Linked DNA regions of Homo sapiens. The protein of the gene in region 2 purifies or fractionates together with the protein of the main gene of each other region. This does not show direct contact. Each region holds a gene or a part of one and is shown on either strand. Other genes may lie near its edges. The genes, in order: EPHX1, SLC15A2, ATL3, NAALAD2, SCFD1, ALG1 and DHCR7.

Region 1 (3,500 bases), on a different chromosome or scaffold from region 2:
TTTTTTTTTTTCTTTTTTTTTTTTTTGAGACAGAGTCTTGCCCTGTCACCCAGGCTGGAGTGCAGTGGCGCAATCTGGGCTCACTGCAAGCTCCGCCTTCCGGGTTCACGCTATTCTTCTGCCTCAGCCTCCCAAGTAGCTGGGACCACAGGCGCCTGCCACCACGCCCGGCTAATTTTTTGTATTTTTAGTAGAGACGGGGTTTCACCAAGTTAGACCAGGATGGTCTCGATCTCCTGACCTTGTGATCTGCCCGCCTTGACCTCCCAAAGTGCTGGGATTACAGGCGTGAGCCACGGCGCCCAGCCTGTTTTTTTTTTTTTTTTTTAAAGACAGAGTCTCATTCTGTCGCCCAGGCTGGAGTGCAGTGGTGTGATCTCAGCTCACCACAAGCTCCATCTCCTGGGTTCACGCCATTCTCCTGCCTCATCCTCCCGAGTAGCTGGGACTACAGGCACCCGCCACCACACCTGGCTAATTTTTTGTATTTTTATTAGAGACAGGATTTCACCGTGTTAGCTACGATGGTCTCAACCTCCTGACCTCGTGATCCACCTGCCTCAGCCTCCCAAAGTGCTGGGATTACAGGCGTGCGCCACCGTGCCCAGCCTCTCTCTCTTTTTTTAAGAGATGGGGTCTTGATCTGTCACCCAGTGCAGTGGTGTCCTTGTAGCTCACTGCAGCCTTGAATTCCTGGGCTCAAGCAATCCTCCTGCCTCAGCCTCCTGAGTAGCTGGGACTACAGGTGCATGCCACCACACCCAGTTAACACTATAATTTCAATTTCCTTTTTTTAGGAACTTTAGTTTATCTGACTGACCAACATGTCTTTCATACACTTTAAGTAATTCCTAGAATTTTAACAAATTAAAATCTTCACTGTTCCTTGAAAAGGCCAAATTATCTTAAAACATTAAAAATAAGATTCCTAACATGTACAATTTCTTCAATATAAAAAATTAACAAGCTGGGCACAGTGGTGCTCGCCTATAGTACCAGCTATTCAGGAGGTCTGAGGCGAGAGGATTGCTTGAGCCCAGGAGTTCGAGGCTGTGGTGAGCCATGATCACGCCTGTGAATAGCCGCTGCACTCCAGCCTGAGCAACACAGCAAGACCTTGTCTCTGAAAAAGATTAATTGTATGGCAACCCACAGAGTGGGAGAAAACATTTGCAAATATAAGAGATTTTATTCAGAATATATAGAGAACTCCTAAACCCTAATAAAACACCCAAAAAATGGACAAAAGACATGAACAGACATTTCTTCGGAGAAATTACAAAGAATCCAATAAGTACCGCATAAAAAATGCTCAACATCAGTAATCATTAGGAAAATGCAACTCAAAACCACAATGTGATACCATTTCATACCCATTAGGATGACCATTACCGAAAAAAAGAAAGGAAAAAAATATTGGCAAGGATTTGGAGAATCGGGATTCTGAGGCATTGTTGGGTGGGAAAGTAAAATGGTGCAGCTGCTGCGGAACGCAGTATGGCGGTTCCTCAGAAAATTAAACGCAGAATTACCGTATGATCCAACAAGTCCACTTCTGAGTATAGATCCAAAAGAACTGAGAGCAGAGTCTTTTCTTTCTTTGAGATGGAGCCCAGGCTGGAGTGCAGTGGCGCGATCTTGGCTCACTGCAACCTCCGCCTCCTGGCTTCAAGCAATTCTCTGCTTCAGCCTCCAGAGTAGCTGGGATTACAGCTGCCTGCCAACACACCTGGCTATTTTTTGTATTTCTAGTAGAGATGGGATTTCACCATCTTGGCCAGGCTGCTTGAACTCTTGACCTCGTGATCTACCCACCTCAGCCTCCCAAAGTGCTGGGATTACAGTTCTGAGCCACCCCACTTGGCCTGGGTCTAAATCTCATCTCCATCCTTCCTCTCAAAGATTGCCACATCATTGGACTGGATGGTGCATTTCTTTGGTTTTTAAATTGCATGTATGTGTTCCTGCCTAGCTCTAAAGATGGACAGATTTGTTGTGACTGCAATATTTTTGCATTTAGTAAGGTTACAACGTATAAGTACATCTCAGTCACCTATAATTGGGTTCTGAATCTCTCCAACTTTATCTGACTGTAAGTCACATTGTGGAAGAAGGCTGTTCTCATGACATACATCCCTCTCTGGCTGGCGTTTTGCAAACATACCTTCAATCTTAGTCTTGAAGTGAGGGTATCTGTTGAGAATCTCCACCTGCTTCTTCCAGTCAAATTCATTCCGCCAGTAGGAGATGACTTTCTTCAGGTAGTTGGAGTTGAAGCCATAGTGGAAGCAGCTGTCCTCCAAAGGTGGGGTGAAACGGAACTTATCGATCCTCTGGTGTAAGTCCTGGAGCAAAATTCAGGACCCCAAGTTGAGAGGGATGGGAAGGACAGAGCACAAGAGCAAAGTCTGTTTCCAGAAAACACAGCAAACCCTGCAGCCACAAGATACTGCCCTCTGGGAGTGGCAAGGCAGTTTCCCACATCACTGGCTACTCCCAAAGCGGATGTGTTCTTCACTTCTTCCTTCTTCACTGTAGACTTCGCATTTCTTTTTTCTTTTTTCTTTTTTTTTTTTTGAGATAGGGTCTCACTCTGTTGCCCAGGCTGGAGGGCAGTGGCGTGATCTCGGCCCACTGCAACCCCCACCTCCCAGGTTCAAGCCAGTCATGCCTCAGCTCCCAGAGTAGCTGGGATTACAGGTGTGAGCCACCATGTCCGGCTAATTTTTGCATTTTTAGTAGAGACGGGGTTTTGCCATGTTGGCCAGGCTGGTCTTGAACTCCTGGCTTCAAGTGATCTGTCTGCCTTGGCCTCCCAAAGTGGTGGGATTACAGGTGTAAGCCACTGCGCCCAGCTCATCTTTTACTCTTTAAGTGTATACACGATACTCATCTTTAATTTACCCAGGCGTCTCTACAGCGGGAGTCGGCAAACTTTTTCTGTAAAGGGCCAGATAGTAAATATTCTAGGCTTTGCAGGCTGCAGTGACTCCACTGTCTTCATAGTGTGAAAGCAGCCACAGCCAATGCACAGATGAATGGGGGTGGCTGTGTTCCAATAAAACTTTATTTATGGACAGCCATAGCCAATGCACAGATGAATGGGGGTGGCTGTGTTCCAATAAAAATTTATGGACACTGAAATCTGACTGCTATATAATTTTCACGTCACAAACTATTATTCTTCTTTTGATTTTTTTCCCCCTAACTATTTAAAGAGGTAAACACTATTCTTGGCATGGGCGCTGTGCTAAAACAGGTAGCAGGCTACATTTGGTCTATGGGCCTGGTTTCCTGACCCCTGATATACAACATTGAATGATACATTATAACTGAGTTGGGATAAAAATTACAGGCCAGGCCCAGCACGGTGGTTCACGCCTGTAATCCCAGTGCTTTGGGAGGCCAAGGCAGGTGGATCACTTGAAGTCAGGAGTTCGAGACCAGCCTGGCCAACATGGCGAAACCCCATCTCTACTAAAAATACAAAAATTAGCCAG
Region 2 (3,500 bases):
TCTCCTGTTGTCCCTACAAAACAAATGGGGAACCTAGTAGGACTGGGGACTGAATTATTCCCAATTACTGCCTGAAATTTTTTCTAAATAGAAGGACTAGTCTTTTTTAGAGTTTGGCAAAAGAAAGTTTCAAGCCTTCTTTCATTCTTGATTTAATAGCAATTTCATTGTGATGACCACTTTACCAGATGAAAATGGCCCTTTGTCATTTGTTCATTGAGCAAATGTTGGGAAGTTTAGGACCAAGTGTCATGAAAATATAAATCAAGCAAAAAAAAAAACAACATTTCCCTCAAACAGTTTATTACTTAGTAAAGGGGCTAGACTATATATATATATATATATATATATATATATATATATATATATATATATATATATAAAATACAACTACTACACAGGTAAAATAAGTGTCCTAAGAAGGGAAGATCAAGTGCCAAGGAGAGGTAGAAAAGAAAAAGTCCCTCCCCTGCCAAAGCCAACAGATTTCTGCAGAGGAATGTGAGGTAAAGCATGTACAGCACTTGGCATATGGCATTTGTTCAATAAACCTGATTGTATTGCCATTATTTTTGGTGTTATGACATAGCGAATAGAAAAACCATCATAAGCAAAGATGGAGGTGGGTAAATGTGGTGTATCACAGAGAAGAGCAGTTCAATGTGACTCAAGAACAAGAAGAAAGAAGAATGTATGAAGGGGAGTTCTAGGAAATCCCTTGAAAAGTAATTGGTCATGGAAACATGGATTTAAAAAAGGAAAGTAATTGGGATCAAATCAGGAAAAGTCTTTGATGCAGTTTGAATATTTGTACCCACTCAAATCTCATGTTGAAATGTAATCCCCAATGTTGGATGTTGGAGGTGGGGTCTGGTGGGAGGTAGTCGGATCATGGGGATGAATTCCTCATAAATGGTTTAGTGCTATCCCGTTGGTGCTGTCCTTATGATAGTGAGTTCTAGTGGGATCTGACCATTTAAAAGCATGTAGTATCTCCCTACCCTTCACTTGCTCCTGCTTTCACCATGTGACATGTCTGTTTCTCCAGAGGGTACAAGCCATAAACCTTGGTGGCTTCTACATGGTGTTAAGCCTGCAGGCATACAGAGTGCAAGAATGAAGAATGCTTGGCACCCTTCACCTAGATTTCAGAGGCTGTATGAGAAAGTGTGGGTGTTCATGCAGAAACCGGCTGCAGGGGTGGAGCCCCCAGAGAGTACCTCTACTAGGGCAGTGTGGAGGTAAAATGTGGGGTTGGAGCTCCCACACAGAGTCCCCACAAGGACACTGCCTAGTGCAGCTGTGAGAAGGGGGCCACCATCCTCCAGACCCCAGAATGATAGACCCACTGGCAGCTTGCACCCTGGGCCTGGAAAACCACGGGCACTCAACAACCTGTGAGAGCAGCCACAGGGGCTGAACTCTGCAAAGCCACAAGGGTGGAGCTATCCAAGTCCTTGGGAGCCCACCCCTTGTATTGGTGTGCCCTGAATGTGGGACATGGAGTCAAAGGAGATTATTCTGGAACTTTAAGATTTAATAACTGCCCTGCTGTGTTTCAGACTTGCCTGGGGCCTGTAGCCCATTTGTTTTGGCCAGTTTCTCCCTTTTGGAATGGGAATGTTTACCCAGTATCTATACCCCCATTTTATTTGGGGAGTCAATAAGTTGTTTTGATTTTATAGGCTCATGGGTGGAAGGGACTTGCCTTATTTCAAATGAGACTTTGGACTTGGAACTTTTGATTGAGTTTGTGCTGGAATGAGTTAAAATTTGGGGAACTATTGGGAAGATATAATTGTATTTTGCAATGTGAGAAGGACATGAGATTTTTGGGGGGCTAGAGATGGAATGATATGGTTTGAATATTTGTCCCTGCCAAAATCTCATGTTGAAATGTAATTCCCAGTGATAAAGGTGGGGCCTGGTGGGACATGACTGGATCATGGGAGTGAATTCTCATGAAGGGTTTAGCACCATTCTGTGGTGCTATCTTCATGATAGTGAATGAGTTCTCACAAGATCTGGTCATTTAAAAGTGTGTGGCACCTCCCATCTCCTCGCTTGCTTCTGCTTTCACCATGTGACATGCCTATTCCACCTTTGGCTTCTCCCATGATTGAAAGCTCCTCGATGCTTCACCAGAAGCTGGAAGATGCCAGCACTGTGCTTCCTGTAAAGCTACAGAACCATAAGCCAATTAAACTTCTTTTCTTTATAAATTACCCAGTCTCAGGTATTTCTTTACAGCAATGCAAGAACAGTCTAATGCAGTCTTTAATAATAGGCTACAGAGTTTGGATTTCATCCTTTAGAGTCTAAAGTTTAGATATAATTGTTTCTCCTTTCCACCACAGATCACTTAGGAAAATGGCTGTTGGTATGATCCTAGCATGCCTGGCATTTGCAGTTGCGGCAGCTGTAGAGATAAAAATAAATGTGAGTTCAGTAATTCTTAAGCTCTATGAGGGCAGGATCATATCTTTCTTATTTGCTCTTTTGACTTGTTCAGTCATGATTCCCTGGGACCTAGCACAGTACCTGTTTTATAAGAGGTGCATCATAAGTATTTGTGATAAATAAGTAGATACAGGGGTAAAACAGCAATGCAAAATGAGGCCCACCTCCCACCTGAGTGACTCAGAATGTATTTTCAGGGAATTCTCAAACACTAATATCCAAGAGAGCCCTCTCCTTAGGGAACACAGGCTTATGTGATGCCTTTCTACATACTCAAGTAAAAACCTTTTGGCAGATTGAATAGCCACTATTACGGATGAGGCCACAGCTGAGTCAAAAAGCATCGAGTTTGTAAGCTGGCATTGGTACTTGCTACAATGAGCTGATGTTTCCCTCTCCAAGCTGCCTTTAGAGTTTTCTAAGCCAAATATTTTTCAGAGGGAGAAAACTATGTCTACTTGGCTAGTGGACTAGGCTGTCAGAAACAACTGAGATATGTGTTGCCATTGTATCTGAAGGATTATTTGTTGGTGATTCTGACATGTGTTCTTTGCTCTAAGGAAATGGCCCCAGCCCAGCCAGGTCCCCAGGAGGTTTTCCTACAAGTCTTGAATCTGGCAGATGATGAGGTGAAGGTGACAGTGGTGGGAAATGAAAACAATTCTCTGTTGATAGAGTCCATCAAATCCTTTCAGGTGAGGTGTGTACCTGAATGAATTAGAAACTCTGTATGCTATATTGATCTTGATTTTTCCTTAACATTAATTGTATCATAAGCATCTTCCCATGTCTTTAGATAATCTTTGAGCACATGATTTTAATGGGCATATAATATTCCATTCTATAGATATACCATAGTTTATTTAGACATTTCCACATAGGTATTCCGTTTTTATTATTATACATAATCCTACAATGAACATTCTTATTCATAAATATTTATGCATGGCTCTGATTATTTCTTAGGGTAAATTCCAAGAAATAAAATGGCTAGGTTAAAGAAAGGAATTACTAGGTTGAAAGTGTCTGATGAGGTCACC
Region 3 (3,500 bases), on a different chromosome or scaffold from region 2:
TCAAAAAAAAAAAAAAAAAGCCAATGGCATTTTTAGTTTCATATTGTGTTTTCCACTGGTATATACCTGTTGATTTGTTTGTGTCTTTTATGAACTGTTATTTTCTGAAATTTTTTTTCAATAAAAGGAAGGAAGATGTGAAAACAACTTTTTATCAAAGTGAATGATTTAAAATTAATACATATTGATTGTTTTTAAGATTCTTAAATAAAATGCATGAATATAGTTTAAAAGGTCAGGTACTACTGTAAGGCTTCTAACAGAAAGCAGCTGTCATGTGTGTTATTCTCCTCTCTACCCAGTTTTCACTTCCCAGAGGCTGATGCTCTTATGTGTTACCACTTCTGTTCTTTACTTCCTTACTCCTGTATGGGTGGCACAGACCTGGCTGTTGTTCTGGGAGTTGAGCAGGGAAATGGCATTGGGGATCTCACTGTTCAGAAGGTGGGCATTCACTATCCCCTAGCTATCAGTAGGGCTTCTTAGCCCCAGTCTCATCTATGCCTTGTAAGCTATGGGCATAGAGCCTCTCCACAGATTTCTTTGTAAGGATCGGGAGGGGTAAGTCATGTGTTTCTTATACAGACTTTCATCCATTACTTCTGTTTTTAGCCCAATCCTATAAGCATGCCTTCACACCTGTTTGTCCTTTTTTTTTTTTTTTTTTTGAGATGTAGTCTCACTCTGTTGCCCAGGCTGGAGTGCAGTGGCACCATCTTGGTCACTACAGTCTCCGCCTCCCAGGTTCAAGCAATTCTCCTGCCTCAGCCTCCTCATTAGCTGGGAGTACAGGTGCACACCACCATGCCTGGATAATTTTTGTATTTTTAGTAGAGACAGGGTTTCACAATGTTGGCCAGGCTGGTCTGGAACTCCTGACCTCGTGATCCGCCTGTCTCAGCCTCCCAAAGTGCTGGGATTACAGGGGTGAGCCACCACACCTGGCCACCTTTGATATTTTGAAGTGCTGGAGTGTTGGTACTGAATTCTTTTAGCTTTCATACATCTGAAAAATCTTTATTTTGCCTTTGTTTTGGAAAATATTTACTCTTAGTGTAGAGTTCTAGGCCAACGTATTTTTCTCAGTACTTCAAAGGTGTTGCCCCTTTGCCTTTTTGCTGACATTGTTTCTTTTTTTTTTTTTTGAGAGGGAGTCTCTCTGTTGCTCAGGCTGGAGTGCAGTGGTGCGATCTCGGCTCACTTCAACCTCTGCCTCCCGGGTTCAAGCAATTCTCCTGTCTCAGCCTTCTGAGTAGCTGGGACTACAGGCGCGCACCACCACGCCTGGCTAATTTTTGTATTTTTAGTAGAGACGGGGTTTCGCCATATTGGTCAGGCTGGTCTTGCACTCCTGACCTCAGGTTATTCACCTGCCTCTGTTTCCCAAAGTGCTGGGATTACAAGCATGAGCCACTGTGCCCAGTCTGCTGACATTGTTTCTGACAAGAAATACACTGTTATTCTTATTTTTGTTCTTTTGTACCTAATCTGTCTTTTTTGTCTGGTTGCTTTTTTCTTTAAATTAAAAAAAATTTTATTTTCGTGGGTACATAGGTATATATATTTATAGGGTATGTCTGGTTGCTTTTAAGATTTTATCACTGTTTTTGAGCAAATTATTATGTGTTTTGATGTAGTTCTTTTTTTTTTTTTGAGACGGAGTCTCACTGTGTCGCCCAGGCTGGAGTGCAGTGGCGTGATCTCGGCTCACTGCAAGCTCCGCCTCCCGGGTTCACGCCATTCTCCTGCCTCAGCCTCCCAAGGAGCTGGGACTACAGGCGCCTACCACCACGCCCGGCTAAGTTTTTGTATTTTTAGTAGAGACGGGGTTTCACTGTGTTAGCCAGGATGGTCTCGATCTCCTGACCTCGTGATCTGCCCGCCTTGGCCTCCCAAAGTGCTGGGATTATAGGCGTGAGCCACTGCGCCAGGCTGATGTAGTTCATGTTATTTGTATGTGGGTTTTGTTGAGCTTCTTGAATCTGCAGATTTATAATGTTTATCAAATTTGGACATTTTAAGGTTATTATTTCTTCAAGTTTTTTTGGTCTGTTACTCCCTTTGGAGACTCCTATTACATGTGCCTCTTGCTGCTTGAAGTTGTTCCACAAGATGTTCATTTAAAATTCTTTGGCCGGCGCGGTGGCGCACGTCTGTAATCTCACACTTTGGGAGGCCGAGGTGGGTGGATCACCTGAAGTCAGGAGTTTGAGACTAGCCTGACCAACATGGTGAAAACCCATCTCTACTAAATACAAAAAATTAGCTGGGTGTGATGGGTCATGCCTGTAATCCCAGCTACTTGGGAGGCTGAGGTGGGAGAATCGCTGGAACCCGGGAGGTGGAGGTTGCAGTGAGCCGAGATCGCACCATTGCACTTCCGCCTGGGCAACAAGAGCTAAACTCCATCTAAAAAAAAAAAAAAAGGCCAGATGCGGTGGCTCACGCCTGTATTCCCAGCACTTTGGGAGGCTGGGGTGGGCGGATCACCTGAGGTCAGGAGTTCGAGACCAGCCTGGCCAACATGGTGATGCCCTGTTGCTACTAAAAATACAAACATTAGCTGGGCGTGGTGGCGCCCACCTGTAATCTCAGCTACTTGGGAGGCAGAGGCAGGAGAATTGCTGGAACCTGGGCGGCGGAGATTGCAGTGGGATTAGGAAGAGTACTCAGTCTTGCCTCAGTAATGAGGAATAACAACACTCTGGTTCCATTTAACAAATCTAAACAGCAAGAACAGAAAAAACCAGAGTTTCCAAATTACTTAACTACATCTCAGAATAAAGCTAGATATTTTATAGGAATGCAAAAATAACCAGCACCCAACAAGGGAAAATCCACAAGTCTACATCCTATCAAAAATTTGCAGACATAAAAGAAGCAGAAAAATATAACCCAAATGAGGAGAAAAATCAATCAAAACTGTCTCAGAACTAACACAGATATTAAAATTAACAGAAAACAACTTTTTTTTTTTTTTTTAGACAGTCTTGCTCAACTAAAAATACAAAAATTAGCCGGGTATGGTGGTGTGCACCTGTAATCCCAGCTACTCAGGAGGCTGAGGCAGGAGAATCGCTTGAACCTGGGAGGTGGAGGTTGTGGTGAGCCGAGGTTGCGCCATTGCACTCCAGCCTGGGTGACGAGCAAAACTCTGTCTCAAAAAAAAAAAAAAAATAGGCCAGACATGGTGGCTTAGGCCTGTAATCCCAGCACTTTGGGAGGCCGAGGTGGGTGGATCATCTGAGGTCAGGAGTTCAAGACGAGTCTGACCAACGTGGTGAAACCCTGTCTCTACTAAAAATACAAAAATTAGCCGGGCATGGTGGCTCATGCCTGTAATCCCAGCTACTCGGGAGGCTGAGGCAGGAGAATCGCTTGGACCTGGGAGGTGGAGGTTGCAGTGAGCCAAGATCGTGCCATTGTACTCCAACCTGGGCAACAGAGTGAAACTCCGTAATCCCAGCACTGTGGGAGGCTGAGGCGGGCGGATCATGAGG
Region 4 (3,500 bases), on a different chromosome or scaffold from region 2:
CAATGTCCATTTTGCTGTAGGCTCTGCTTATTTCTCTGGTTTTATCTCTCCTTATTTCCCCCATCACTGCAGAGATACTCCAATTGTATTGATATAAACACATTTTATTTGCTTCATTTTTTTTCTAGACCATAGTATTTGCTATTATTACTAATCCTGTATATAATATTATATAAAGATTACTAATCCTTTATATAATAATATTCAGAAGTCATTACTATTCCATACCCATTTTCTGTGTTTTTATAGTACTCTCTACATAGCCCCATAGTAACCTATTATCTGTATATTGCTTTATTCCCCACATGAGACTTTAAGCTTTCTTAGGACTATGACCATGCCTTGTACACATTTATATCTCCCAGGTAATAACATAGTACTTGGTACACAGTAGAAACTCAGGGCATATTTGATAATTTGGGTATATACTAAAAATAGGTGCCCCCAGAATAATAAAAGACAATGTTTGTAATAAAACAGTAATAGGTAATATTTAATGAGCACTAAGTGCTACCCACCACAGCTTCTATATATTACCAAACTGAATCTCCACAATGATCTTTGAAACATGATATGTTCTTTTTTATCTTTTAATTGTATGAAAGCTAACACATAGAGAAGTTAAGTAACTTTCCCAAGGTCACATAACGAAGAACTGGTAAAGCTAGTATCTGAACCAGGCAAACCACTTCCAAACTCAATCCTCAATGCTACTACATACACTGCATTATGAGTCATCCTTGCTGTATAGGAGATGCACAATGCAGAAGAGCAACCACTAAACAGTCATTAATAAAAGGAAAGTATACTTATAACCATGGAAAAAATGTTTCATATAGACAAACACTAAAAGATATATGCAGTAATAATCATTTTGTTGACAATAATTAAAAATACGTATGTAATAGTATTTGTGGCTTTCTCAATCTTTTGCAAATAATGTTACATTTTTCTAATATTGTTTCTATAACAGTAAATTTTTTTTTTTTTTTGAGAAGGAGCCTTGCTCTGTCGCCCAGGCTGGAGTGCAGTGGCGCGATCTCAGCTCACTGCAAGCTCTGCCTCCCAGGTTCACGCCATTCTCCTGCCTCAGCCTCCCGAGTAGCTGAGACTACAGGCGCCCACCACCATGCCCAGCTAGTTTTTTGTATTTTCAGTAGAGACGCGGTTTCACCATAATAGCCAGAATGGTCTCGATCTCCTGACCTCATCATCTGCCCGCCTCAGCCTCCCAAAGTGCTGGGATTACAGGCGTGAGCCACCGCACCCAGCCAGTAAAAATGTTTTTAAAGGCCATAATACAAGAAAAATGTTTACCATCCCAATGTTTGTGGTAATAACTCAGCCATAATGGATTCATTCTATACATGCCAGATTAAATCAGATTCTTTAATAGGTGTTTGTTTTAAGTTTTTGTGTAGAAGTCAAAATAAGTAAGGCAAATATGTATTCTAGGATGAAACAATATGCATTGATCATCATAGGAGATAATATCTTAAAGCTCTAACTTAAAGACTGTAAAATATCTGCCCAACTATTTCTTACCAAATGATACTCCATGGTCTGTCAATTGTTGATCATGTTTCTTAGATAGATTATAGATACTTGCTGCATAGTTTTTCAAAGCTTCTGCATAGTCTTGAATATTAAAAGGAATGATTTTAGAATCCACAAGCTCATATACCAGTGCTCCTCGTAATTGAGCCACAGAAAGTTGTTTTTTAAATGTGGGGTCATAAAATTTCTCTACCAATTCAAATGTCTCATAAATTGTGTGGTACACTGGGTAGCTGCTGTACTTATCTGTTTTCTGAAAAAAAAATGGAGAGGCAAGTATAAATAAACATTAAATATTCAAGTTATAATATTTTTATGTAAGCATAAAAATAACTATAGAAAAAATAACAACCAGCCAGTCATGGTGGCTCACATCTGTAATCCTAGCACTTTGGGAAGCCAAGGCAGGTGGATTGCCTGAGCTCAGGAGTTCAAGACCAGCCTGGGCAACATGGAGAAACCCTGTCTCTACTAAAAATACAAAAAAAAAAAAAAAAAAAAAAAAAAAAAAAAAAAAAACAAGAAAAAGAAAAAATACAACCATATAACACCCTGAGTTTTACCACAAGGAGGCAAAACGCTAATAACGAAAACACTATAGCCAAATATTCACTGGTTTTAAAAATTTTCTCATTATTTGTTTTATAATTTATGTAACCTTCATTCAAGATGCTACACCTTGAACATTTTCTCCTTGTATCTTCGATAACTAAAATTAGGGAATACATATTCAAATTGCACCTCAGCATAGTTCAAAGTTATCTATCAATTGATTGGTAAAAAAAAAAAAAAGGTTCTGGGCAGCTAAGTACACAGCTTAAGGATGATTTATTTAAGTAACTTCCCTTCCTTCTCAAACAGTGTATATCTAAATGTCATTTAAGCTTTATTACATAATTAAGGTACCATTATGAATATGAATTATTACATAGTAGTATCCCGTATAAATATTCTTTTTAGTTCTTCGGTCTGCCTTTTCTAATTTTAGTTTTTATTATTTGCCACCTTGTATGGCTATCGTTCTTACTGCTGTTAGTATCACTAAAAAGCAATCTCCTTATCAGTCCTTCTCCTTCTATCTAATTATCTGCTTCTAATCTAAAGTGGTCTTAGAAACTAGATAACTTTGAGCAAATTACAGAAGACAGAGTATAAAAGTGAACAGGCCTTGACAAAGAGTTAAAACACATCATTTATGTATTAATTGTAATGAATGTAAGCATTCTGAGTTTATCTATTTTGGGTTACTCTGGGGTTGCTTTTATTTCTTTGTTCTTTGTTGTATTCTGAACAGTCAAATTTGCAAGTGATATACATATAATGGGCAAGCAAGATTTAGATGTACTGTAATTATGATTTGAAGATTGATTAAAATCTATGACAAATCTGTGTCTGCTACTGTAATCTTCAATTTGGTTTATGAAATAATTTATAACATTGATGAGCAAACATGGTATATATTGGTTATATCCAAGTACCTGCATATCATCAGGATGTCTGTGTGACAGTAGTGCAAACCAGTCAGTGCAGAACAGAAAAGGGGATCAAGTTAAAAGAGAAACTTGCTTTATTTCCCAACCAAGAACCCTTGACTCAGGTGACAGGCAGAAGTGGCAATATGAAGAGGAGCTACCGACAATAATGAATCTTACCCTAATGCTCCTCTTGACCAAAATATGTTCTCCAACTGCATTTATCCTCATGAAAAGTACATCAGAGCCTGCAAGACTAGTCTAGAGAATGAGAGTTTTCTGACAAATCAGGAAAAGGATGTGAACTACTTAGTACTGATTAACCAGATAAGTGTCTGGCATTACTCTGTGAATCACCATTTATTTGATTAACCCTAACAATGAAATTTTCACAAAATTACTCAAATTGCTTCCTTGTCCATCTGGAAAGGGACATGCAGTCTATCTCTATCCCTGGGAACTCTTCCCAGG
Region 5 (3,500 bases), on a different chromosome or scaffold from region 2:
TCTGAAGAAAGAGAGTCTGCATGAAGTTTAAAATGAAGAAGCCTAAAGAATTGGAATTTTTAAAGGCTCTCCAGTATTTCTCAAAGGAAAAGATTGTAGATTGCTTTCTGGTTCAATTAAGTTTTATATCTCATAAATTATTAAAGTGGTATTACAGTTTACAGATCATTTTCTCATGAGTTTGTTAAAATAATCCAGGCCCTCTGAATGTGACTAACTCCGAGCAAGCTTATAAAATCCAAAGTCTGGACTTGAAAAGCTAAGGAACAAAATATCAACCAGGAAAAAGACCTATCAGTGACATCCTACCAAAGAGATCAACTGGACTCCCTAGATGAAAATTACTATTTTATCACTTGTCTCACTCCATAGAATGTCTGTCAAAACAATTCATATTAAGAGATCATGTTAAATAAGGATAAAACATTCATGATAACTAATATGTGTTACTTCTTCCATATTACAATAAATTCCCTCCAATTACCACCAATAAGGGCTGAGAAAAACAGAAATCAGTTCCCATTAAGATAAACTCTTACCTTCCATACTGGTTCTCCTGTGCTGTTTTTAATATGAGGCACATTGAAATTCAACATACGCTTCAAAGCCACTGAAAATAAAAAGTTTTATCAAATATTGTCATTGTTTTTTAGGATTTTATTTTTCCTCCATCATCATTCACTACCCCAAAGCAAAATAAACTAATCAACTCTAGTAAAACTGATTAACCAAATGACTATATGTGTAGAACTAGGGGTCAGATCTTGTAAGACTATTCCATCGACAGCTAATTGACATGTATTTGGGAGATTTCCCAAAACACAATAAGCATCTGTCCACAGATGAAATCGCGGGAAATGTTCAGGAAGAACTTGCAATGGCCTCAATATACTGATGCTGTTGCCTGTGTACTGTCTGGCTGAAAGCATAGATTAAGGTAAGTCTTTTTTTTTTTTTTTTTTAAGTCTGAGTGGTCTAGTGAGAAGGATCAGTCTGTCTGTCTGTTTTTTTTTTTAAGTGTGAGTGGCCTAGTGAGAAAGATCAGTCTTTCTTTTTTTTTTTTTTTTTTTTTTCTGAGACAGAGTTTCGCTCTTGTTGCCCAGGCTGGAGTGCAATGGCGTGATCTCGGCTCACCACAACCTCTGCCTCCCAGGTTCAAGCAGTTCTGCTTCAGCCTCCCGAGTAGCTGGGATTACAGGCATGCGCTGCCATGCCCGGCTAATTTTGTATTTCTAGTAGAGATGAGGTTTCTCCGTGTTGGTCAGGCTGGTCTAGAACTCCCGACCTCAGGTGATCCACCCGCCTTGGCCTCCCAAAGTGCTGGGATTACAGGCGTGAGCCACCACGCCCGGCCTGGATCAGTCTTTCTAAAAACAAAATTATCCATGGCATATTCAATTGGTTCATATACAAAACCTTCATACAGATCTGTCTATAGTTATGTAAGAGTATATTTTACAAACAATTTATCCTGTCAGATTCACCGAAAAGTTGCTTAAAATTCTATGTCCCTTGGGAAAACAGACTTTCCCATATAGTAGATAACTGATAATTCCAGCTAAGCAAATATACAACATCAAAAATCACAGTTACGGGTCTGTTACAGTATTTTGTGTTATTTATCACTCATCTGTAACAGTGTTACAGAAAATGAAAATCCCTTAATATACTTCTTCGTGAAACTGAGATGGCCAAATATTCAAGAGAGTATACTAGTTGTAATTTCTTGATTTAATTTTTATAAAATTGACAGCCTTAAAATCCACTTGGTTGATTGTTAAAAACATTTGCATCAGGCTTTAAGTAATACAGAATAACCTATACTCCAAAGTCCTACGAGAGAACTATGTAATACTAAAATCACCTGAATATCAACTTACAGCATATTCATTCACTCACAAGAAAAACTTCTATTAAATGCTTGCTTGCTGAGGTAGGTATAATGCTGTTAAAACTGCTATTACTGAACAGATTGTACTTCAGTGATACATTTGCATACTTATGTGTGTGTACATACTGTTGTGCCGAACCCTTATTGCCTCCAGTGGGGAAGATACCCATGTTTGAGAGGCCTAAGAAGAGACCCGGAGCCAGGAAATGAGACACAGGGTTTTAATGGGGGCAACACACATAGGAGAGTCCAGTGACAGTGGGCTGGACAGGAGAACTGTATACTCAGTGGCAATGCGCTGGGCAGGAGAACCATAACTGCATGCAAAAAGTGGTTTATATAGCAAAAATGTGGTTTATACAGCATTTTCACTTAACATTTCCCTAACAACCTCCACCTGGCAACCTTCATTCAACCCAAAACTCGGGGCCTTGATCCACTGCATGGCCTATGTTTCACTGGATGGGCTGGGGGCTCAGATGTTCCTCACAGACAAGGAATGAATCTCCAGGTGGGCCATTTTGATTCCCTAGCTTGAAACACATATCCAGGTGTGTCTGCAATACAGGGTCATTCTCAGGGCACGCTTAAGTTATTGCTATCAGGTGTATTTACCATACACCTACAGACATAATTTTTGGTAAAATGTTATTACCTAATGTCCAGCCAAAAATACACATTACCAATATTACCTACTTCAGAGGCCCACAGGTTTTACATTAAATAAAAATGTATTTTATTTAATGTATTTATAATATTAAATATATTTAATATAAACAAAAAAACAGTTTAACACTTAAAACTGAAATAACACAGGAAGCACGGAGGGGGTTTCAGGATTAACTCTCCCACTGTGCATTTGCAGAGCTCTTCCTCCACCTCCAGGCAATAAAGACACCACCACCCTGGCACTCACGCCCAAGAGGGAGGAAACCCTGTTTCTGGGAACAGCTGTTCACACTCTTGAAGCCTGACAACTTGGAAGAACGAAAGCCTGAGCTGCCATGTGAGCCTCAGGTGTTTAGTATGCTGCACAGTTAGGCCTTAGCTAACTGAAAGAGGCCAGCAGCAGCAAATAAGATAATCCTACATTCGCCTTCTCAGCCCAGTCTGAGATTTTCTCCAACTTTGAGCCTTGGCTAACTTATTAAAAGGTATTTTGATATACCTTTTACCTATATCAATATACCTATTGATATACCTATATACCTATATACCTATATACCTATACCTATATAGGTATACCTATATGCCTATATACCTATACCTATATAGGTATACCTATATGCCTATATACCTATACCTATATAGGTATACCTATACCTATAACAAAAAGGATTTGTTAATGGAGTACACGGCCTGTGTTCAGAGTTTACAAGAACGTAATTTTACTTTTATCAGAGTTTACCCAAGGCTTAAACCATGACTTTATCTGAAATGACAAACCATTTTTCTTATTGGCTCTAAATATACTACAGGTTGAGCATCCCAAGTCTTAATATCTGAAACCTGAAATGCTCCAAAATCAAAATTTTTTAAGCTGGTGCTCGGATTTTGAAATTTGGGATGCTCAACCAGTAATAATGCAAATATTCCAAAATCAAAAACA
Region 6 (4,155 bases), on a different chromosome or scaffold from region 2:
TGGCTTAAGGCGTGAGCTGTCCCTTCTGAATCCATAGAAAGGGAGTGATGGGGCAATTGTGAAAAGCAGATGCAAAGTGTGCCAAGCCCTGAGCTGAGCCCAGGGACACTGGGGAGCCACATCCATGTGGGCTACCCTGTCCCGTGGGTGCTGCCTGTGGTCCTCATCAGGGGAGGAGTCTTGTTTGTTTGTTGAATACGGTCTGGGTGGTGGCTCTCCAGGTTCTGCGGCAGCTCCCAAGTGGAGGCAATGGGGTAGCATCACCAGTGAGCTCTTGGTGTTTCTCTGCAAGGGACCGCTTTCAAAGAAAAAAGGTCATGATACGGTTTGGCTGTGTCCCCACCCAAATCTCATCTTGAATTCCCATGTGTTGTGTGGAAGGGACCCAGTGGGAGGTAACTGAATCATGGGGTCAGGTGTTTCCCGTGCCGTTCTCGTGATAGTGAATAAGCCTCACGAGACCTGATTGTTTTATAAAAAGGAGTTTTCCTGCAGAAGCTCTCTTTTTGCCTGCTGCCATCTATGTAAGAGGTGACTTGCTCCTCCTTGCCTTCTGCCATGATGGTGAGGCCTTCCCAGCCATGTGGACCTGTAAGTCCATGAAACCTCTTTCTTATGTAAAGTGCTCAGTCTCGGGTATGTCTTTATCAGCAGCATGAAAACGGACTAATACAGGCCATCGCAGAGACACACATTAAACTCTCACTATGGCTACTTTGGGAGGTGAAATTGGAGGGTCACTGTGGAAATTTCCTTTCTAGCCATTGATACTTAAGCAAAATCATGATGGTGTTTACTTCCTTGTTTGTCCTTCCCCCTCTCTACCTTTTAAATGTTTTATTAAGTGTGATGTACACCCTGGAAAATGGGCAGGTAATCTGCTGCTTGAGGTACCGCCCCAAATGCAGCACACCCACATTACCAGCACCAGATCCAGAAGCAGAACCCACCAGCCCCTAACTTCTAACAGCGAGGACTGGTTTTTATTTACATAGACGGAACTCTACAATTCGTACTCGTCAGCATCTGGCTCCTTTATCAATGTTAGGATGAAATTTATCCAAATTCTTGTGTCACTATATTTTGAAATTATCTTTGAATCCTGAAGAGAGTTCTTAGATCCCAATACAGTAACAGCTTTACTTTAGTCGGGGAAATACACTGGTGTGTAGGGAATCTGGTGTATGTGCGTGTGTCCTACTACTACTAATTCTTGGCCCCGAGGGGCTCCTGGGGGTTCCCCGGGCCCCTGTTAGGGAACCGCGTCCACTTCTCGCCCTCTCGGCCCACTTCGGAGGCTCGGTCTGCGGCTGCGCACAGCGCGAGGAAGCGCGGTCACGTGACTGCTGCGGGCCAGCCAAGATGGCGGCCTCATGCTTGGTCCTGCTGGCGCTGTGTCTGCTGCTGCCGCTGCTGCTGCTGGGAGGATGGAAGCGCTGGCGCCGGGGGCGGGCGGCCCGGCATGTAGTAGCGGTGGTGCTGGGCGACGTGGGCCGCAGCCCCCGTATGCAGTACCACGCGCTGTCGTTGGCCATGCACGGCTTCTCGGTGACCCTCCTGGGGTTCTGCAGTGAGTGGCCAAGGGTCTGGGAGGGACGATGCTCTCTCAGCCGTTGATCCTCGGTTCTAACCGCCCCGGGGAGTCGAGGCGGAAGTGCTCCTTTAGTCGCCGCCTTTGGGCAGCTCTCCGAGATTAGACGAGCGGTTCTGCCCCAGCCTTTCCTGGGTGGGTCTCTAGGTATAGCCGGCGTTAATCTTGCCACGTGTCAGAAGTGTGTTAAGTGAATCCATTGCGTGGTCTCACGTAATTCTCCTAGTAAGTGGAACCCAGGTGCGTGGAACTCCAGGGCTAGTGCTGGTAGCTACGTCCCTGTGCAGCTACCCTTGTCAGGCTATGTCTGAGCTGACAGGATATTTCATTCCTCATCCCTCAACGCAGAGCTCTGCAGACAGATGTTTTCATTTGTTCTTCATGTCCAGCTTTTCCCCACAGTGTGCAGGGCAGCGGTGTCTGCTCCCTCATTATTCTCCACGTTGGTATCTTGAGAGGGTAGCTCAACCCCATCTCAGGAAGAAGTGGGAACAGCACTAGTTGCCTTTAATCCCTGTTTAGAATCTGCTATCCTAGGGTGATGGGGTAGAGTGGGACTTCCTAGGGATGGCTCTGTGGTGGGAAAATTCCACTATCCAGACAATCTAGATTAGTTTAATTGAGCACCTACTGTTTGCCAGGCATCATGTTAAGTGAAGGTAGGTAAGATTCAGGCCCTATCTCTGTGTGCCTCCTAGAGCAATCTGAACAAGAATTGGCCGCATTCTCTGTTCTGGCTAGTGAGGAGCAGAGAGAGGTTTTGAAATATCTTACTTTCCAAAACACTGTCCGTGATTCAGCCTGAGTTGGGAGATTATCTGACTTTAGATTGCTGCTTCTGGTACATTAAAGGGATCATTCTCATTTTTCAGACTCCAAACCCCATGATGAGCTCTTGCAGAACAACAGAATTCAGATTGTGGGGTTGACAGAACTTCAGAGTCTTGCAGGTAGGATGCCGTCAACTCCAGAATCCTCTGAATCCATGGGCTGGGGGCAGGGGGTGTTCGTTTGAAAAGCCGTGCAGATTGCCAGACGCTCCTTTGGTAGTCACAGGTGTTTTCTGACTTGCAGTTGGGCCCCGAGTTTTCCAGTACGGAGTCAAAGTTGTACTTCAGGCTATGTACTTGCTGTGGAAGTTGATGTGGAGGGAGCCAGGTGCCTATATCTTTCTCCAGGTGTGTATCAGCCTCTGCCTCCCTCTGTGAGAGCCATGTTAGCAGTTTACTTTCCAGCACAAATTGGTACTATATTGCATATTCATATGTGTGTGTGTTGTGTGTATGGGCGTTTAAAGACATGAGTAGGAGCCTATGGTATGTGTCTATTTATGGCACCTATCCATGCTCTCTGTGTCATTACAGATAGTCTTACATTGTACTGACTGTGTATCAAGTGTTTTCCATGTATTAACTCATTTAGTCCTCACAGTTACCCTAAGAAATATTGCATGTAGGTAATACAAGAACCTGTTTCTTAAGGTTGTTCTCATTTAGATGAGAAAACCTAGACTGAGAAAGGCTCTGTAAGTAGCCCATCGCCATACAGCTAGGAAGTGGTGGAATCAGGATTTGAACGTAGGTCGTCAGTGTGGTTCTATAGTATACACACGCACGCATACGCGCGCACACACAAACACACATATATTTTTTTGAGACAGAGTTTCGCTCTTGCCGCCCAGGCTGGAGTGCAGTGGCGTGATCTCGGCTCACTGCAACCTCTGCCTGCCGGGTTCAAGTGATTCTCCTGCCTCAGCCTCCTGAGTAGCTGGGATTACAGGTGCCCGCCACCACGCCCAGCTAATTTTTGTATTTTTAGTAGAAATGGGGTTACGCCATGTTGGCCAGGCTGTTCTCGAACTCCTGACCTCAGGTAATCCGCCCCCCTCGGCGTCCCAAAGTGCTGGGATTACAGGCGTGCGCCACCGCGCCTGGCCTATCGTTATACTTTTAATCCCTTCCCTTGATCACTTTTTCTTTAAAAAATTTTTCTTTCTTTTCTAGCTGAAGGAAGAATACTTTTTTTTTTAAATCAATTTTTAATATATAGAAGCACCTTCCTCTTTTATTTATTTATTTTTATTTTTCCTGAGATGGAGTCTCTGTTGCTCAGGCTGGAGTGCAGTGGTGCGATCTTGGCTCACTGCACCTTCTACCTCCCGTGTTCAAGTGATTTTCCTGCCTCAGCCTCCTGAGTAGCTGGGATTACAGGCATGTGCCACCATGCCTGGCTAATTTTTGTAATTTTTTTTAGTAGAGATGGGGTTTCGCTATGCTGGCCAGGATGGTCTTGAACTCCTGACCTCAGGTGATCCACCTGCCTCGGCCTCCCAGATTGCTGGGATTACAGGCATGAACCATCGTGACCCACACCTTCCTCTTTTAATAGGCAGCCTTGAATTCCAATATGTGATGTACTATACTGCATGTATTTAGTCTCATGTTAATGGATACTCAGATTCTTCCTGATTTTGTTTTTACTTTTACAAATAGTGTGGCTCCAAGCACAGCGAGCATATGCCTTTTGTATAAGTCCAGTTTCTTTCTTAGGGTAACTTCCCAGCA
Region 7 (3,500 bases), on a different chromosome or scaffold from region 2:
ACTTTCTGGGTCTTGCTGCTTTTAAGATAAAGAGGAAGACTTCCATGAGGCCTCCAGCCTCACCTGGCTCTGAGCTCCTGAACGCTCTCTGGTCAGGATGCGGGATGTTTCTGAGTGTCCCAGACTTGCCACCCTCTCTCCCTACAGGGGGTTCCTGGAGCATGCACTCTTGCCTCCACTCTACCAGGTTAACTCCCACACACCCCCAGATTCTACCCAGGTGTAATCCCCAAGGGAGACCTTCCTGGACCACGCCTGGCTGCGTAGAACCTGCCTCCTCCCCTCCCAGGGCTGGCAGAGACAGGCACCCAAGGATGGCTTCCTTCACCAAGTGCTCGCCGGCTGCTTCCTGGTGACACCTGGGGAGGGCAGCTGACTCTCTTTTACAAGCAGTAGATTAAGGTCATGGGAATACGCTCTGGCTTGCGGGTTCCCCCAGAGCCTGCCGGCATCGGCGTTTCACCCTCTCCAGCCATGACAGGCACCTGCAGGACGTTGACCAGGACCATGGCATTGGTCACATGGCTGTGGAGCTCCCGCTGCTTCGCTGCGAAGGACAGGTTGATGAGGGTCCAGGCGACGATCCCGGGGCGCCCATTGAAGAACAGCTTGAAGTCAAACCACTTCCCGATCCGAGGGTTAAACTCGATGCCCATCATGTAGTTGTAAAAGAAATTGCCTGTGAATTTGCTTAAAAATATAAATAAAAGATACATTTAGTGGATGAGCATATCTCACAAGATGAAGCCACCTTACTTAGCGAGAGCCCAGCACTGGCCCAGGGTCCTAAAGGGTAACGTGAGACGGCGCAGGCAGAAGCTGGCCATGAGCCGCTGGGACCCCCACGGCTGGAATGCTTGTCGGCTGGTTCCTGGCGCCCTCATTCACTTTGCTTTGCATTCAGCTGCTGCTCAGCAGAGACTTCCTTAGGCAGAAGCCCAGGGGCACCTGCTCTGCACCCGGGAAGGGTGGGAGACCGGCCCTGGGCTGGTACCTGGGTTTCTCTCTACCCTTCTCCAGATGCCCTTGACGCATGGCACAGGTGAGCTGAAGAACTGGCTTGATTGCACTGAGATTACGTTCTGGGGCCCAAGCACACGGTTTGAAGCCGACGCAGGGCACGTGGGCCCTCATGGGTGAGTGACATTATAAATCACGCCAACGTAGAGAATGACAAACGCACCCTGGGCCCGGCTTCCAGCATGTGCAGGACAAGTTCTTTGACCAGTTACCTGAATCCCCCAATCCCCGGAGGGCCAGAGCATCAGCCGAGATAACCCCTGTGGAGACCCTGACTAGGTCTAGCTGGCTGAGGACACACAACAATTTCTGTGTTAACTAGAAAATCCTATTTTCATGTCCAGTTCCCTCAGGTAGGGTAAGTAGAAAGAAGCAAAACACACAAAGTCTACATGATTATAAGGTAGCGAGGATGATTTCCAGGAGCCATTGAAGGCCAGCCTCGTTATCTGATAACACACAAGCTACAAAGTGTCATCCTCCAGAAACATTTCCCAAGAGCCTAGGTGTAAACCACACTGGGGTTTTTTGGATCCCCCAAACTGAACTGTAAGTCCCACTGCCTACAACTGTCCACAAGAGAACCCCCCAAACATTGGTTTATGATGGATGGATGGATAGATAACAGGGTGAGTGGGTGGAAGGATGGATGAATGGGATGGGGAGAGGAGCAGGTGGATGGATATATGATAGGCAGGGTTGAGCTGGGGTGCAGGGTGGCAGGGATCAGGTGTGTTCAGAAGTGTCACCCAGGAAGCCAGAGGGAGCAGGCTAGGAGGGCCTGAGAGGGTAAGGGAGGCCGGTCAGGAGCTGCGGACATTGCTCAGGCAGGAGGTTGACCTGGATGAGATGATGCATTCCTTCCCCTCGGCACATGCCATTACAGGCCCTGATAGAGTGGATGGATGGGTAAATGGATGGATGACGGGCAGGTGGATGGGTGGGTGGCTAGATGTGTAGGTGGGTGGGTAGGTGGATAGGTGGATGGACAAATAGATGACGGGTGGGTAGACAGACGGGGTGGAGGGTGGATGGGCAGGTGGATGAGATGGATGATGGATGGGTGGGTGGGTAGGTGGAAGGATGGGGAGATGGGCAGGTGGATGGGTGTGTGGCTAGATGTGTAGGTGGGTGGGTAGGTGGATGGGCAGATGGATGAATGGGTGATGGGAGGGTAGATGGATGGATGATGGGTGGGTGGATGTGGGTGATGGATAGGTGGATGGATGATGCATTGGTGGGTGGGTGAATGGGATGGGGCAATGGGTAGGTGGATGATGGGTGAGTAGGTAGATGAATGGGTAGGGGGGTGGATGGGTGGGTGGGGAGATGGGCAGGTGAATGGATGAGTGGACAGAGATGAGTGGCTCACCACTGTCCAGCCATGGGAATGGGTACAAGCCAGCAGGGCTCTCCTGGGAAGCTGTTAATTAAAGCCACAGGGACAATAAGACTCTTCACTAAGGTTGTTTTGGGCCTCACCAGCTTATCCAAAGAAAGAGGCAATGGGCTGCCTGTGCCCCAAGCCAGAAGTTTTTCCTGGCTTCCTTACCCCCACGCCAGCCCTAAAGGCAATGACTTGGCCACCACAGCTGACCTGGCCATCTTCAGCTGCATTCTTGCCAAGGCTGGAGAAGCCACCAAACATTCAGAAAGGATGTTCCCCAGGGTGAAGCAAGTTCCATCCCCCTCCTCCTCTTCCACGGATTCTCAGTGCTCAGGGCTTTACAACCACCTGCCCCAGGCAGCAAGAAAGGCCAGGGGTGAAGTTTGCACTTTCTACATCAGGCTGGACCCGCTGCTAAGAACATACCAGTCTCTGGCGCTGGTGGGGAAGAAGTAGCCCTTGACCATGGCGAAGGTGGAGACGGCATAGCCAAGGATGTTGGCGCACCACAGCAGTGGGATCCAGTTGTCGAAGATGATGGTGGGCGAGAACCAGGACAGGAGATGAGCGTTTGCAAACCAGAGCAGGTGCGTGAGGAGCCAGGCTTGCAGGCCATTGATCTGATACTTGTTCACAACCCCTGCAGATGAAGGATTCAGAAATGAAGGCGCTTTCCCAACCCGCAGTGAGGAGCTTGGCTGGGCTGAAGCATGCCTGGCGGGGGCCCTGGTCACTTTCTGGGCCTCTGCTGCTGCGGACCCTCATCTGGGGCCCCAGGAACCATCTCTGAGGCCCCTATACCCTTGGCCAAGGAACTACCTGCTCCTAGGAAGAGGGAGGGGAGGCTGAGTCCATCCTTTGGTTCTGCATCTCGTTAACTGGCCATAGGCTGAGTGACAGGTGTGCAGTCTGATAGGGAGGTCAGGGCTGAGGGGCAGAAGCAAGTGAGGATGCCCCTGTGGTATGCCTGGCCCCCTCTGTAATTGTTGGGGAGCACCTCAGCCCATCCACCCCTCAAAACAGGGAGCTTCTGGGGGCAGAGTTGGGATGCGGTTCCAGTCTGCACCCACGTGAGAGGCACAAAGCCAGGCTC

Evidence for each region.
Region 1: the proteins of SLC15A2 (region 2) and EPHX1 purify together in Homo sapiens (affinity purification with mass spectrometry; one large-scale study listed by BioGRID and IntAct). This does not show direct contact.
Region 3: the proteins of SLC15A2 (region 2) and ATL3 purify together in Homo sapiens (affinity purification with mass spectrometry; one large-scale study listed by BioGRID and IntAct). This does not show direct contact.
Region 4: the proteins of SLC15A2 (region 2) and NAALAD2 purify together in Homo sapiens (affinity purification with mass spectrometry; one large-scale study listed by BioGRID and IntAct). This does not show direct contact.
Region 5: the proteins of SLC15A2 (region 2) and SCFD1 purify together in Homo sapiens (affinity purification with mass spectrometry; one large-scale study listed by BioGRID and IntAct). This does not show direct contact.
Region 6: the proteins of SLC15A2 (region 2) and ALG1 purify together in Homo sapiens (affinity purification with mass spectrometry; one large-scale study listed by BioGRID and IntAct). This does not show direct contact.
Region 7: the proteins of SLC15A2 (region 2) and DHCR7 purify together in Homo sapiens (affinity purification with mass spectrometry; one large-scale study listed by BioGRID and IntAct). This does not show direct contact.

The regions. Positions count from the first base shown.
Region 1 is NC_000001.11:225,830,624-225,834,123, reverse strand, and holds part of EPHX1 (epoxide hydrolase 1), read right to left. Parts: intron 2,346-3,500; coding exon 2,165-2,345; intron 1-2,164. UniProt on the Homo sapiens protein: Biotransformation enzyme that catalyzes the hydrolysis of arene and aliphatic epoxides to less reactive and more water soluble dihydrodiols by the trans addition of water.
Region 2 is NC_000003.12:121,925,401-121,928,900, forward strand, and holds part of SLC15A2 (solute carrier family 15 member 2), read left to right. Parts: intron 1-2,357; coding exon 2,358-2,439; intron 2,440-3,020; coding exon 3,021-3,155; intron 3,156-3,500. UniProt on the Homo sapiens protein: Proton-coupled amino-acid transporter that transports oligopeptides of 2 to 4 amino acids with a preference for dipeptides. Transports neutral and anionic dipeptides with a proton to peptide stoichiometry of 2:1 or 3:1.
Region 3 is NC_000011.10:63,654,377-63,657,876, reverse strand, and holds part of ATL3 (atlastin-3), read left to right. Parts: intron 1-3,500. UniProt on the Homo sapiens protein: Atlastin-3 (ATL3) is a membrane-anchored GTPase that mediates the GTP-dependent fusion of endoplasmic reticulum (ER) membranes, maintaining the continuous ER network. It facilitates the formation of three-way junctions where ER tubules intersect.
Region 4 is NC_000011.10:90,176,163-90,179,662, reverse strand, and holds part of NAALAD2 (N-acetylated-alpha-linked acidic dipeptidase 2), read right to left. Parts: intron 1,811-3,500; coding exon 1,546-1,810; intron 1-1,545.
Region 5 is NC_000014.9:30,625,319-30,628,818, reverse strand, and holds part of SCFD1 (sec1 family domain-containing protein 1), read right to left. Parts: intron 611-3,500; coding exon 540-610; intron 1-539. UniProt on the Homo sapiens protein: Plays a role in SNARE-pin assembly and Golgi-to-ER retrograde transport via its interaction with COG4. Involved in vesicular transport between the endoplasmic reticulum and the Golgi.
Region 6 is NC_000016.10:5,070,488-5,074,642, forward strand, and holds the start of ALG1 (chitobiosyldiphosphodolichol beta-mannosyltransferase), read left to right. Parts: upstream 1-1,355; 5' UTR 1,356-1,362; coding exon 1,363-1,570; intron 1,571-1,760; exon of another isoform or gene 1,761-1,816; intron 1,817-2,463; coding exon 2,464-2,541; intron 2,542-2,665; coding exon 2,666-2,769; intron 2,770-4,155. UniProt on the Homo sapiens protein: Mannosyltransferase that operates in the biosynthetic pathway of dolichol-linked oligosaccharides, the glycan precursors employed in protein asparagine (N)-glycosylation.
Region 7 is NC_000011.10:71,438,394-71,441,893, forward strand, and holds part of DHCR7 (7-dehydrocholesterol reductase), read right to left. Parts: intron 3,048-3,500; coding exon 2,834-3,047; intron 2,444-2,833; coding exon of another isoform or gene 2,393-2,443; intron 691-2,392; coding exon 486-690; intron 1-485. UniProt on the Homo sapiens protein: Oxidoreductase that catalyzes the last step of the cholesterol synthesis pathway, which transforms cholesta-5,7-dien-3beta-ol (7-dehydrocholesterol,7-DHC) into cholesterol by reducing the C7-C8 double bond of its sterol core.